Linked DNA regions of Homo sapiens. The protein of the gene in region 1 purifies or fractionates together with the protein of each later gene. This does not show direct contact. Each region holds a gene or a part of one and is shown on either strand. Other genes may lie near its edges.

Region 1 (5,454 bases):
CATACTCTGTCCCCACCTCCAACCCCCGAATACAGGGACATCTTCCTTCCTGCTGTATCTCTAGGCCCAAACCAACATCTGGCTGTCAGCAAATCCCCACTGGGCAAATGGAAGGGTGAACACTCGAAGGACAAGAGCTCTTTCAAAGACAAGTACTGGACGACTTCAGGGCACTGAGTCTCTCCTTCTCCAGCTAATAATTTATCCACTAGAGCTGCAGAGTAAAAGTAATTATAAAACAATTTCTATTTTTAAAATCAACGCTGAAATGAATCAGACGTAAGCCTCCCTGTGCTGTATTATCGTGGCACCTAACAGCAGCACTTGGCAGGGACAAGAACGTTCTTCAAAGAGCTGGGGCACACGGACGGACGCTGGCAGAGCGGTAGGTTATTTTGCTTTAACATTTCCAAAGAGTTGGTTGAAGGACAGAGAGATCTCATTCAAATGCGTCTGTCCCCTCAAAGGCCATTGACAGAGCAAACACAGGGTTTCTGTAGCTGAGGAGGCCGGGATATGGCCACACGCAAAGCAGCGAGGCGGACAGCTGGGTCAGCTCCAGCAGACAGGAAGTCAGGGGCAACTGCTCCGCTCCATTTAACCTGTATCTCCCCTCACTCTCACCCAGGCCTGCTTGGTCCTGGCCACTCCGTCATTTCAGCGTTTAGGAAAGCTCCCGAGGGGAGCATGAGAGCCCAGGTTCCCCAGGACACTGGTTACAATGTTGCCGCCTGACCCACTGCCACCTCCGCCCCAGGCTTTGTGGGTGACACCCAGTAGTAGGAGGACTGTTCCTGCGTCACCCCTCTGCCAGGCTGGCTCTGGAAGTGACAGGCAGCCAGGTCGTGCAGTTTCATTCCCTGGGCCCTGGTGACATCACTCCACAAACCCGTCTGTCCCAAAAGCCAGGAGCCTGAGTCACCTCCAAGCAGATGAACCTACTGCAGTTTGAGGATCATGTTTATTTTAGCCAGAGAAAAAACAATCTCGCCCCAAATAAACTTTTCTCCAGGCCTCAGTCATTCCCTAGAATGGATGGCCATGAGCCTTTCAGACCTCACCAAGAAGACAGCATCAAAGAAGGGAGACCACTGGCCCCTGAGCATCCACTCATCCAGCCACTTACGACGCGGCCCTGCCTGATGACCCCAGGGTAGGTGGCTGGTGCAGGTCTGAGCAGTTGCTCAGGGAACTCGGCAAGGAGATGACACACTCCCACTTCTCAGGCGAGCCTGGTCTACACATGCGCCCACCCCATGTCTGTCTGCTTCCTCCCGCTCTGCTGGGCCAGCCACAGCGTGTCAGGGCAGATGTGGAAGCAGCGCAAATAATGTCATGAGGACTGGGCAGCACAGAGAGGCTTGGGCAGGAGGACGGCAGCGGGTGGCTGCACAGAGGAGGTGATATTCAAGTTAGCATCGCAGATTACCAAGTTGGGCGGGGAGGGGGCGGGTAAGGGCATTGCCAACAGAGCAGCCAAGGCGTCTCAGGTTAGCCGGCTGGGTATCCCTGTCCCTTGGCCAAGCAGGCCTGGACTCCACTCAGAGGCTTTCCACTTTAAGCTGCTGGGATCCAGTGGCCAGCTGGGTTTCATTCGCGAATGACCGGTGCAGCGCTGGCTGGGAGGCTGGCTTCTGGATCAGGTCAGAGAAGGGGCCTCGTCTGCGCCTGTCCCTATTCAGAGGGTGAGCAGTTCTGCCAGGCAAGGCTCCTGCTGGCTTTGTCTGCACCTCCTGAGGCTGTCGTCCCCCAGAATATCCTCCCAACCCTGGAGAGCCTTCATAATGTGGCACCTCTGGGCTCACTCTTCCAGGGAAGGGCTGTCCCCACCTGCCTGAGTCCCCCCAACCTCTGTGCAGATCCACTTTTCTCCCCAACCGCCCCAGCACACAAGGCCTCCGCTTACAGCTAATCTAAGGGCACCGGGCAGAGCTCAACAGGGAGCTTGTTTCTCTCTTTCAGCCCAGCCTGCTCTTCTGAACACAACATAACAGCCAACACTTACACGGCATTCACTACACACCAGGCACTATGAACACCTGTAAATTTCTTCACAACCACTCCAGGAGGTGTGTAGTATTATTGCCCCCATTTTGTAGATAAGGAAACTGAGGCAGAGTGGTGAAGGGACAGAGCCAGGGGCTGAACCTGGAGCTTGCTCTTGACTGCCCTACCATTCCACACGTGGCCACAGTTGGCATCTCTCCACCTCTTAGAGGGTACAAAGATGACTCGGACCTTCCTGGGGCACACCCCAAAGCTACAGGAACAGGCCAAATGGTAAGACAGCAAGCGGCGCTCAGGAATGTGTCATGGGCATCAAAACACATCAGAGACAGGGAGGGGGAGGTCAAGGATGGGTGGCCCCTTCCCACCCCAACCTGGACCAAGAACAGCCTCTGGAATAGCTCTGCCAGGGAGGCAATATGCAGCCCAGGGGTCGGGAAGTCAGCGGCCTGCCGGGCATCACCACGAGGGCATCACCATGTGGGCTGATGGGGTGGAACCGAGCAGAGGATGTCACGGGGCGAGACAGCAGTGCGCATGCCCAGGAACAACGAGCTCAACGCCCATGCCATGCTGCGGGCAAATCACTCCTATACACGTAAATGTTGCCCTTTTCTAAAAGCCACCAGGTGATTCTAACACTTGCATTGTCCGGCACGGTAGCCGCTGGCCGGTGCGGGCTGTGAGTATTGGAAAGGTGGTGAGTCCAGACTGAGATCAGCTGTGAGTGTCCAGTGCATACCTATTTCAAAGATTTAGTAGGAGAAAAAGAATGTAAATTCTCCTATTCATAATTTTTGTGGCAATTACATGTTGAAAGGGCTAGCTTTTGGATATACTGGGTTAAATAAAATATGCTATTACAGTTAATCGCACCTGTTTCTGTTGACTTTTCTAGTAGTTACTAGACAATCTAAAAGTACACACGTGGCTTGCCTCTGGTTCCTCCTGGACAACACTGCTCTACTGTGTGCCGGGGCTGAGAAGCCCTCAGTTGTCAATAAATGTTAATCTTGACAGGATTTTGGTTTCACGGGGGATGCTAAGCATGTATGTCACCAACCTGGAAAATTGGACCTATGAACTGTTTCCACATATTGCTGCCCTAGACAGTCCCTGCCCCACAGGAACCCCTTACACCTGGGTAGTTTCATGTCTACAGTTAATGCTCACCCGCCAGACTTGGCTCACTCAGCAGTGGCCAGAGGCCTTGCAGTGTAGTAAAGGGTTTCTCTCATCCTAACCTGAGAGGAATCTTCTGGGCTTGATCTCCATCCTGTGGGCCTGCAGTGGAAACTGAGGCCCAGTGAAGCAGAAAGGTTCACAGATCAGGAAAAGGCAGGACTCACCATTAGCATTTCCAGTACTCCTAACTGAGTCCTTCTTCATGATATGCTTCAAAGATGCTTTCTTCTCTAGATGTTAAACTTTTCAGCCGAGGAAGGGAAGGGAGAAAGACGGTTGGGCCAAGTATCTGCTGAGGCCCTTCTATGCCCTAGGTGCTCTTTCATGTTTACATACTGGATGTATTAGTTCCTTATGGCTGCCATAACAAATCACACAAACTCGCAGTTCTGGAGGTCGGAAGTCTAAAACAGGTCTCACAGGACTAAAAGCAAAGTGTCAGAAAGGCTGTGTTTCCTCCTGGAGGCTCTAGGGAAGAATCCATTTCCTCGCCTTTTCCAGGCTGTGGAGGATGCCCATACTCCTTGGCTAGTGGCTCCTCCCCAGCAGCAGGCAGTGAGTCTTTCTCACATGGACTCAGTCCGACCTCCTCTCCTGCCTCCCTTGTCCACATTTAAAGACCTTTGTGATTACACTGAGCCCACCTGGTAGCCCAGGAGAATCGCCCCATCTCAAGGACCATCTCAGCTGATGAAAAACTCTAATTCCACCTGCAACGCCTTACTAAGTCATTAACGTAGTCACAGGTTCTAGCTGCCACACGGTCTCTCTCTTACACCTTACAACAGCCCTATACGATAGCTGGAACGATCTGTATGGTTTTTTTTTCAGACAAGGACATAGATTTACAAGTTAAGCAACTTGCCAGGGACACAGGCTAGAGCCTAGGTCTATCTACCTACTAGTGCCTTTATGATACCACACCCTCTTTTTAAATGGTACAGGCAGTGTTCAGGTTCCAAATACAGGCATGCTGTATTTTGTAGTATTCTGTATTCAGAAAACAGCAACAAGACAATAAAAGTTTGTCACCTCCATTTTGAAAAGGATTTTTTTTTTTTTTAACCAAAGGGACTAAAGTCATAGGGAAGAAAAGCATACACTGGTTTTCTGGACATTCCCCTGGGATTATACACACACACCATGCAACAATCACAGGCACCAGCTCCCAGCAGGCACATGATCGCCTCTCTTCACACTCCTGAGCGCTAACCCCACAGATATTTGCAAACAGGGTGTGTCCTGTCAAAAAAGCTCACAGGAAAGCAATTATCTTCCTCCTGACCCAGGAGCCCAGGGGAGGAAAGCGAGGCTGGCAGGCTAGTGAATATTTAAATTCTAAGCCAGCCTAGTGCTCCTGCCACAGCACACAGTGCTGTGGTCAATGCAAGACAAGCAGCGTATTACAAAGGAAGCCAGGTCCCTGGACTGCATGTGCTATTTTCTGTCCCGAAGGAGACATGGAAGTAACAACCTCAGCTCTCCAGGTCCTTTTCCACCACGGGACCTGGCTGGCGGCTCACCTGATTATTTCTGGGAACGATCTAATTAAATATTAACCACGTACAAAACCTCATTCTTACATTCCTCAATAAGTCACTGTGAAGACGAGCAAACCCAGACAATGAACTCAAACTCCAACTTTCCAGAAAATGGGGCCCTAGAATAGGTAAGACCTGTGACATTCACCCATTACAAAGTTATTCATTGTTAGTGGCCCTCTTAGCCTCTGAGAAAAAACCAGAGCAAAACAAAACAAAACAATCCACCTTCGGAGAGGTGCCTGTAATCCCAACATCTCGGGAGGCCGAGGTGAGGCGGGTGGATCGCCTGAGGTCAGGAGTTCGAGACCAGCCTGTCCAACATGGTGAAACACCTTCTCTACTGCAAACACAAAAATTAGCCAGGTGTGGTGGCGCACGCTTGTAGTCCCAGCCACTTGGGAGGCTGAGGCAGGAGAATCACTTGAACCCGGGAGGCGGAGGTTGCAGCGAGCTGAGATCATGCCATTGCACTCCAGCCTGGGCAACGAGAGAGACTCTGTCTTTAAAAAAAAAAAAAAAAAATCCACCTTCTTGTGTATCAAACCAACCACTAAAATGTGTGGTCCTGTATCAGAGATTCTCTCTTTGACACTCAGGAAGGTTGCCCTTGACTTCTTATCATTTAAGAGTAAGATCAATGAAGTTGGTCCTTCACATCCCATCTCCTCCATGTAGCAATCAGACCTCTTTATACGTCCTCAAAGGCACGAGAAAAAAC
Region 2 (4,343 bases), on another chromosome or scaffold:
ATGCCTGGCTAATTTTTGTATTTTTAATAGAGATGGGGTCTCACCATGTTGGCCAAGCTGGTCGTGAACTCCTGACCTCAAATGATCCGCCTGCCTCTGCCTCCCAAAGTGCTGGGATTACAGGCATGAGCCACTGCGCCCAGCCTTTCAAAAGTATTGATCCTTGGGCTCTACTCCTGGAGATTGCAATTCAATGGGTCTGGGGAAGAATTTTTTCAAATCTCCCCAGGTGACTGTACACATGCTCCTTGACTTACGATGGGGTCAGGTCCAGATAAATCCAATGTAAGCTGAGGAGCATATTCAACGTGTATGGTTTTGCACCATTGTCAAGCTGAAAAATCCTTAATTGAACCATTGTAAGTTGAGGACTGTCTGCAATATTCAGCCAGGGCTAAGAATCACTGACCTACCATTTGAACCATCTAAAAACCTAAACAGCTAATTTAATTTGATTGCGGTTTTCACTTTGAAACTGATGCCTGGCATCCTTGGTTCGGCCTTAGAACCAAGATAATACCAACAGTTAACATTAGAAAATACCAACAGTTAACATTCCAGAAACACCAACAGTTAACATTCAGTTGGATTATCTTAGAAAATACCAACAGTTAACATTCAGTTGGATTATCGCCTGATTCCAAGCTATTGATAATTTCATTAATTTCAGAATCAGAAATGACAGGTGCAATTTCACAAAGTTAAAGTAAAACTCTTTTCTACAAGAAGGATAGTTTGGTTTTGTTTCCTACAATTAATGCTTCGTCAATCATGGCTTTTCATATTTAAGGTGGTATTAACTTACAAAATAAGGCAAAAGAACCATTAGGTATGATTGCTCCCAAAGTCCTCATAGCAAATGAACTCATGATTTCCTTACCTCCATCTTCATGGCGATCATAACCATGAGGGAATCTCCCGCTTTCACTTTGTCTCCAGCTTTGACAAACACCTTGAGATTCAGTGTGACAGGTTAATATTTGAAAACACAGAGGTCCTAGATATGTTCATCTGCTTCATTATAGTAACCATTTTACTGTCTATATATACTCATAACATCATGTTGCAAACCATGAATATAAACAATAAAACATAAATAAAAAGAAAAAAAACAACACAGAGGTCCTTTGTGGTCCACAGATTTGGTATATAAACTTACAGAGCAGAAGTAGAGCCCATGTGGTTGTGCCATCTGCCAAATGCACTGGTCAAATCAGAGGCCTACAGCCCAAATATACAGGTCAAATCTGAGACCTACAGCCCAAATGCACTGGTCAAATCAGAGGCCTACAGGTCAAATGCACTGGTCAAATCAGAGGCTTACAGCCCAAATGTACAGGTCAAATCTGAGACCTACAGCCCAAATGTACTGGTCAAATCAGAGGCCTACAGCCCAAATGTACTGGTCAAATCAGAGGCCTACAGCCCAAATGTACTGGTCAAATCAGAGGCCTACAGCCCAAATGCACTGGTCAAATCAGAGGCCTACAGGTCAAATGTACTGGTCAAATCAGAGGCCTACAGCCCAAATGTACTGGTCAAATCAGAGGCCTACAGGTCAAATGCACTGGTCAAATCAGAGGCCTACAGCCCAAATGCACTGGTCAAATCAGAGGCCTACAGGTCAAATGCACTGGTCAAATCAGAGGCCTACAGCCCAAATGCACTGGTCAAATCAGAGGCCTACAGCCCAAATGTACTCGTCAAATAAGAGGCCTACAGGTCAAATGCACTGGTCAAATCAGAGGCCTACAGCCCAAATGCACTGGTCAAATCAGAGGCCTACAGCCCAAATGCACTGGTCAAATCAGAGGCCTACAGGTCAAATGCACTGGTCAAATCAGAGGCCTACAGCCCAAATGCACTGGTCAAATCAGAGGCCTACAGGTCAAATGTACTGGTCAAATCAGAGGCCTACAGCCCAAATGTACTGGTCAAATCAGAGGCCTACAGGTCAAATGCACTGGTCAAATCAGAGGCCTACAGCCCAAATGCACTGGTCAAATCAGAGGCCTACAGGTCAAATGCACTGGTCAAATCAGAGGCCTACAGCCCAAATGTACTGGTCAAATCAGAGGCCTACAGGTCAAATGCACTGGTCAAATCAGAGGCCTACAGCCCAAATGCACTAGTCAAATGAGAGCCCTACAGGTCAATCTGGCATTGCTGGCACTGTCGTCCATGGGTAGCACTGCTTAGTCCCCTGTCCCCACCCACAAAACCACTTAGTTTTACTTGAATCACATGAATATACTCCATGTATTTTGAAATCCTTTCATTTTTTTCAAGAATGTAGAAACAAGACACATTGCCAGTAGGGAAGGACTAATATACTTAAATGTCTTCCCCAGAGAGGGAAGAGGGATGAGGGTCTTGACTGGTTTTCTTGTTTTGGGGTTGTCTAGGGCTAAGTATAGTAAGTGTGTTTGAAGTCTTCAGAGCCCTGTGTAGTAAATGTGAAGACAATCTTCATGCAACAGAATCAAACTTATTAGCAACCCCAGAAAGAGATTTCTATTTTCTTTTGTATACATATAAATGGACTCATAGATCCTATATGGTCTCACTTTCGTTTTGGTTAACATGGCTACTAAGTGGGAGACTAACAGAGTTGTGCAGAGATGCCTGCACTATGAGAGGCCTGTGGGAACTGAAATCAAATGAGCTAAAGGCAGATCCAGGTCTCCTAGCTCATACCCACTTGGGGTAAATATTTCCAAACGAGAATAGTGGCTGAAATCACCCACACTATTTAAGTAGTTATTTTCTTCTTCTTCTTTTTTTGTTCCAAGCATATACAGTTGAGTTTTTATGATTTAAGTGTATTTGAGGAGACTCTACTGTATTCAAGTATATAAAAGGAGACTACGGATACTGATCTATCACCATTTGATGTTATATCAGTATGTGCTAGGGTCTAAATGTCTATATCCCTCCAGAATTCATTTGTTAAAATCCTGACCTCCAGGATGATGGTATTTGGAGGTGGGGCCTTTAGCAGGTGATTAGGTCATGAGGGATCTGGCCTCATGAAAGAGATTAGTGCCCTTATGAAAGAGGCCTGAAGAGAGGTCCCTTGTCCCTTCCACCACGTGAGGACACAGAGAAAAAATGGCTGTTTATGAAATCGGTAAGTAGACTCTCACCAGACACTTAATCTGCTGGTGATTTGATGGATTTCCCAGCCTCTAGAATCGTGAGAAATAAATTTCTATTGTTTAAAAGCCACCCAGTCTATGGTATTCTGTTCTAGCAGCCTGAACTGACTCAGACAGTATGGACTGCAACTGTGAATTATATACTGCATTCAACACCAAACCGTACTGTTCTTCACCAATACCAGCCTTTTACATTAACGCAGATGCAACTACGTACACTAAAAGAAAATGTCATTATTTCATGAAAAATTTGCTGCTATTAAATTTAACATTCAAAACCAGCTTTTTTGAATAATGCTTAATGAATGCTCAGTTTTAATCATAAAAAGACAATTTAGATTATTTGTACTTTGATGCAAATGCCTGCCTTCAAAAACAGCAGTCTTTTTCATAAATTAGGTAAATGGGTATTTTCAGTGAGGACTGTAATAAACAATTTGAATCTGTAATAGATCCTCTTGTTTTTGTGAAGTGGATGCTTTCCAATGAGCAAGGTTTAGAAAGGGAAAAGGACATAAATGACAAGTTTAACAAAGCCACGTATTAAAACTTACTGAACATCATTCTACAGATGTCATGTGATTACCTTTTCAATGGTTCCAGTCATAGGAGCTAAGGGGCCGCCCTGAGTTTCTTGTGAGCTCACAGAAGATAAGTATTTGGGGACTGGAATGTCAATCTCAATACTTCCTTCCTAGAAACAGAAAACAAACTGAAAACCGAATCAACATCCTATCACTATATTTTTACTAATATACCTGAGGTAATAATTGTTTCCCAGCAATTTGTTAAATATTAGTCATCATGGCCAGGCCCAGTGGCTCACGATTGTAAACCCAGCACTTTGGGAGGCTGAGGTAGGCAGATGGCTTGAGCCCAGGAGTTCAAGACCAGCCTGGGCAATATAGCGAAACCTCATCTCTACAAAAAATACAAAAATCAGCCCAGTGTAGTGGTACGCGCCTATAGTCCCAGCTACTTGGGAACTGAGGCAGGAGGCTCACTTGAGCCTGGGAGGTAGAGGCTGCAGTGAGCTAAGACTGCGCCACTGCACTCCAGCCTGGGTGACAGAGTGAGACTCTGACTCAAAAAAAAAAATAAATTAGTCACCATTAATACCAGGGTTCTAATCTAGCTTTATGACCTTGAGCAAATTATTAAACCTCTCTCAGCCTTGGTTTCCCA
Region 3 (5,454 bases), on another chromosome or scaffold:
AAAAACTTGGTCTCTGTTCCACCTACTTCAAATCACCACAAACATACACATAGAACAAGACACTAATGCATCTTTCTGTCTGGCCTTCTCTTAACCCCACGTCTGGGCCGTAGTGGCGAGTATCATAGGGCAGGAGCACACGTAAGTGTGAGTGGGTACAAAAAGGGAACAGGCAAAATCAGGATGTTATGCAAGAATTTTAAAAGCCAATTATTTTGCAAATCTAAGAGTAGCTGGGCAAAGGTAAGAATGGTTTTAGACTGGACATTTACCAAGTAAACATAATGTAGGTATCCAGGGGGAAAGTGGAAAATCTCCTGATTTTTCCATAACTCCTAAGATGACCCATAGGTGTGTCTTGGAGAAAAACTACTAGGAAATATCTACTTTTACTTCCATCTTTCCATTTTTGAGAATGTTTGGCACTAATTAAGAATAGTTTTTCCTAAAATAGCTCTGTACTCCAGGAAAAGAGTTACCTCTGTGCTCCAAATTATAATAAACTATTTTGAATCACTGTAACATAGAGCTAAAGCCTCAATGTTCTTTGATTGTTCATCTCCACCATTCTCTATTCACTTTTTATTCCCTTTACGCATTTTTAGAATTTTCCACATGCTCTCAGTTCTGCTGTTTACTCTGTTGGGAGTGTGAGCATGTGGCTATCTTCAAATACTACCAGATTTAGCTTCCTTAATATGTCCCTTGGATGTTCAAAAGTCTGTTAAGTGCTCTTTATTGCCTACTGTAAGAGGCAATAAAGAAATCCAAACTCAGAAGCCCAACCTAAAACAATATACATAGGACCTCTAAGACCTACTCCAGAGATCTTCCTTACAGCAAAATTTAGGCAAAAACCCCTATCCCCGAAGACTGGTCAGGAAATAACATGAACTAGGGTCAAGTAGTGTCTCAGGGCTTTTCTGAGACCCTACTCAAGGACGGACACGCTGCAGCCAACATAGCTAGATTTATTTTCCCCAAAGAACTGTCTGTTTAGAAATGTGGGGAGAGCTATAAGGCTCCATCCTATCTTAAAACAAACCAACAGTTTAAAATATTTTACACTTTAAAACTAGCGACTGATACATTCTGGGAAATTAAACAGCATAAGGATTTCTCTGTTCTAAAATATATAAATGCAGACCGAAAAGAAGCATGAGGAGACTTTCCAGGGTGTTGACAACATTTCATATTCTGGGTGCTGGTTACATAGGTGTGTGAGTTTGGTAAGATTTACTGAGCTTCACACTTAACGCTCTATGTACTTTTCTGTATGTATGCTACACTTCAAAACACATTTTATAATGTGCTTTTACTATTAGCTGAAAGGTGGGGGAATATTAGAAGGGTACTCAGCTTTAGAAATACAAAAAATAAAATCTTTACAATAAACTTTCAAATTGTCAAGATATTTTATTAAGTTTCAAACATGATTTTTGTTAGACCTCGGCTAAGTAGGGGGAAAAGGAGACTCTTTTAATTGAATCATCTTACTTGAGCTCTTCTCTTTCCTTCTGACAATTTCCAAGGAAGTTTCCAAACTGGCATGAATGAATATGCTCATGGATCTGAAGAAGAAATGCTTCACTGAATTCAAAGGCTTGTGGAAACTGTTCGGTCAAATGCCACACACATTCCAAGAACTGAGTAAACACTGGTGAGACTTCCTTTGGGTCACCATCCAACTGGCCACACCTAACCCCACAGAAAGTATAAGCTTTTAAAAACACCTCTGAAAGGTCCATTGTTCAGGTATTGTTAATCTTAAACATACAAAAATATTCCTAAAGCACTGTTACATTAGCATGCAAAACTAGAATTTTTATTGAAACCATTTATGAGTTTTTAAACCACAGCTTTAAAGGATCTGTTACCATCTCTAAATAAAATGCAGCCCAAAAGGAAGGTAATAAATAGTCATGAAAATTAACAAGCGTACTAGAATTGAAAGAAATTACAGAAAAAAATTAAATGTCTTTACGTAAAATACAGTAAAAACCATGACACTCTTACCTCCCATCACGCATGTGAGTTCATAAGGAACAGAAACATTTTGGCATTCTAAACTTGGTTTACTAATTTTATAAAATATATGACTGTGTAACTGTGACTCACCTCTCTGAAAATTTATGTCCAAAAGAGATCCAATCCTTTTCTATTAAAACCTTAATGAGAAAAAGTAAAATTCACTTTCTGACTACTTTCAATTATTTTGTTTAGGCTGGATTAAATCTTATTAGTTTAAAAACAGTATTTACTGTACACTTTTAACTTATAAACAAAACAGCACAAAAAACCACAGGCAAAAGAATGCCAAAACCTTGATTCGAGGTGGGGTTAAAGAAGAATAAAAATGCATAAAAAGAAATAGAGTAGTTTCGTGACTTAAATTATTTCCGTTGAATTTATTACATTTTAAGTGAAAAGTACATGTTATAAAGCAGTATTACATTTAAGTTTTTGTATGTATGAAGATGATATATCATAGGAAAAAGGCTAGAAAAATGTAAACCAAAACTGCTAACAAAGGATAACTCTAGGTGGTAGACTGAGGTGGATATTTTAAAACTTTTGGCTTACTTGTACATTTTTTATATTATTTATATACTACTTTTTTTAAGAAAAAAAAACTAATGATAAAAAGACCAATTATTTTAATCAAATCATCTTACTTGAGTTCATGTTCAGATCCAAGTGTTAACATCTATCCTCTTGAATGGACTGACTTTATGTTTTCCTTGCCACAGCTTCTCTACTTACCCACTCCACTGTAAAAACAGATTTCTAACTTTTTCAGTCTAATCTAAACACATATTTGTAGTATTTAGTACACTTTATCACTTAACTATACAGTCACCAAGCACATTATTTTCATAGTGTCAAAACTGCTGGTTTTAGCTTCTCTGATTTTGTCTCAAGCCTCTGCTTTCCGCAGAAGGCTATACACTGATGTGGCTGAGGATGTAGTCGCTGGAGCTCAGGCACAGGCTCCAATCCCAGCTTCACCACTTTGTGTGACCTTGTGGCTGGAGCCACAGATTTTATTCTGGTCTCTCTGCCATTCTTCTACAAAACCATGTTTAAAGCATAACTCAATATCTTTCTCACTAAATGTATTCTTTGGCTTATCTCAGTGAAGAGCCAGAGAGCAGCACCATCCATCCTGGCACCTAATTCAGAAACTTGGAAATCATCCCAGAGGAAGACTCCTCTCTTCTATCCCACATCCAATCCATGATCAATTCTTCCTGACTCTACTTTCTTTTTTTTTTGAGACAGGGTCTCACTCTGTTGCCCAGGCTGGAGTGCAGTGGCGCAATCTTGGCTCACTGCAACCTCCGCCTCCTGGGTTCAAGTAATTCTTCTGCCTCAGCCTCCTGAGTAGCTGGGATTATAGGTACACATCACCATGCCCGGCTAATTTTTGTATTTTTAGCAGAGACAGGGTTTCACCATATTGGCCAGGCTGGTCTCGAATTCCTGACCTCATGATCCACCCGCCTTGGCCTCCCAAAGTGCTGGGATTACAGGCGTGAGCCACTGCGCCCAGCCACTGACTCTACTCTCTAAACATCCCTGGAACCCATCACCTCCCCCTTCACTTGTGTGTTACTATTTTAGTTTGGTAAAATTAAAAACTTTTGTCTCATAAGTTATCATAATAGTGTCTACACTCGCCTCCTAGCCTCCATTCCCACTCCCTTTGGCCTTCAAGATACCAAGCCACCTTTTTAAAAAGCACATCTAATCAAGTTACTGTTTGCTTGTTTAAAACTCTTTAATAGCTCCCATTATCCAAAGAGGGGAAAGCCCCATTCCAGCCTTCTCTTTCTCAGGCCCTGACCCCACTCTATTCCTCTGCCTCCAAGCCCCCTATTCTAATACTCACTCTGAACTCCATCCATCACACATTACCTGCAGTCACCCAAAGAGGTTATGCTTTGATTTACACTGTTCCTATTGCCTGGGAAGCTCTCACATCATCCCCATTTATTACATGATTTCATTTGGATGTCTAACAAATAATTAAAGCCAAACATGGCAAAGAAAATATTCCTTATCGTACACTCTCAAGGTAAGCTGAGCATTATTTTCTTATTAGCAGCACTCCCGCTTGGCCTGTCCCAGAGTCGGTATGTTAGCAGCAAAAAATAGCGGTGCTGAAAAGGGACTGGTGATTTTAAATCTTCCTTTGCTTTAAGATGGCACTGTATTTAATAATTCAAGACTAATGAAAATTTTCTAACATCTCTTCATTTAATTTACCATGAGTTAAGATGTAAATTTTGAAAACATAAGTTAATCTGCTCACACGTTTAAAAGCAAGCAAATAAAAATCTGATCATACCTTTAAAAGCAAAGAAACAAAAAAAAGGAACTAGGTCTTTATCTTCACAAAGGAGAAAATCTATTCAACTAGAAATTTTATCTTCAGATATAAAACATGCCTAATATGTTATTACACTTACTAATGCAGGTGTTTTAAATAGAAGGTTTCCTTCAGAATTTAATTTTAAGTACTCTTATTTGTGCATTGTTTTATTACATTATTTACATTTGTTAGATAAAAATGAGGGAGAAAATACTGAATATTTCCATTGCAACATTTTAGGAAAAAAAATTATTTAAATCTAAAGCTTATTGTCAGTGTTAGCACAAATGGAAATAAGTCTAATTCAAGGTTTTTCAACCTCGACAGTACTGACATTACAGGCCAGATCAGTCTTTGCTGTGAGGCTGACCCCCCAGCAAAAATTTTGTGCATTATAAAATGTTTAGTTAGCAATATCCCTGGCCACTCCCACGGATGCCAGTCTCATCATTTCCTTTAGTGCAAAACTGTCTCCAACATTGCCAAATGTCCTCTGGAGGAACATAAAATTACTCCTACTTAAGAACCATTGGTCTAACCAAATAAATCCTTACCATGAATCCTTTGATTGTCCTGTAGTAGGAATCCAATAAAAGAGAACCCAGGGAACAAACCTGGGAAGTCCTATCCCAACCATCGGAACAATGCACCAACACACTTGCATTTTCAACTGTTATTGCCTGAAAAGAAAGATCACATACATTCTAGCGTACTTTAAGGTAAACCAATAAATTCTACTTGAAAATCATACTAGCAGGTATTGTGTTACAAGGAAGTGCTATGCCTGCAATGATAATGTCACAGCATAATTTCCAAAATACACAACAAAATATGGTAACAACAAAAACACAAGCAAACAAACAAAAAAAAAACAAAGAAAAAATGCCACTTCAAAGTATTTAGGAGCATCTTTTTAAGTTTCTACATTAAGTGCTACATGATATTTTTAAGGCTGAAAATAAAGTGAAGCTCATTAAAGAGGTAAAAAATAATAAAAGTTATCTGATGAATAGATACCAGCCCCCAACAGAATACATCTACTCCTTCCCAATCATTATAGACCCCAAGACCAAATATGA

The links.
Region 2: the proteins of HIP1R (region 1) and MCCC1 fractionate together in Homo sapiens (co-fractionation; one large-scale study listed by BioGRID). This does not show direct contact.
Region 3: the proteins of HIP1R (region 1) and MTMR6 fractionate together in Homo sapiens (co-fractionation; one large-scale study listed by BioGRID). This does not show direct contact.

What each region holds. Positions count from the first base shown.
Region 1 is NC_000012.12:122,837,123-122,842,576, reverse strand, and holds part of HIP1R (huntingtin-interacting protein 1-related protein), read right to left. Parts: intron 1-5,454. UniProt on the Homo sapiens protein: Component of clathrin-coated pits and vesicles, that may link the endocytic machinery to the actin cytoskeleton. Binds 3-phosphoinositides (via ENTH domain).
Region 2 is NC_000003.12:183,016,386-183,020,728, forward strand, and holds part of MCCC1 (methylcrotonoyl-CoA carboxylase subunit alpha, mitochondrial isoform 1 precursor), read right to left. Parts: intron 3,853-4,343; coding exon 3,745-3,852; intron 953-3,744; coding exon 881-952; intron 1-880.
Region 3 is NC_000013.11:25,252,267-25,257,720, forward strand, and holds part of MTMR6 (phosphatidylinositol-3,5-bisphosphate 3-phosphatase MTMR6), read right to left. Parts: intron 5,056-5,454; coding exon 4,930-5,055; intron 2,807-4,929; coding exon of another isoform or gene 2,756-2,806; exon of another isoform or gene 2,183-2,755; intron 2,169-2,182; coding exon 2,119-2,168; intron 1,699-2,118; coding exon 1,498-1,698; intron 1-1,497. UniProt on the Homo sapiens protein: Lipid phosphatase that specifically dephosphorylates the D-3 position of phosphatidylinositol 3-phosphate and phosphatidylinositol 3,5-bisphosphate, generating phosphatidylinositol and phosphatidylinositol 5-phosphate.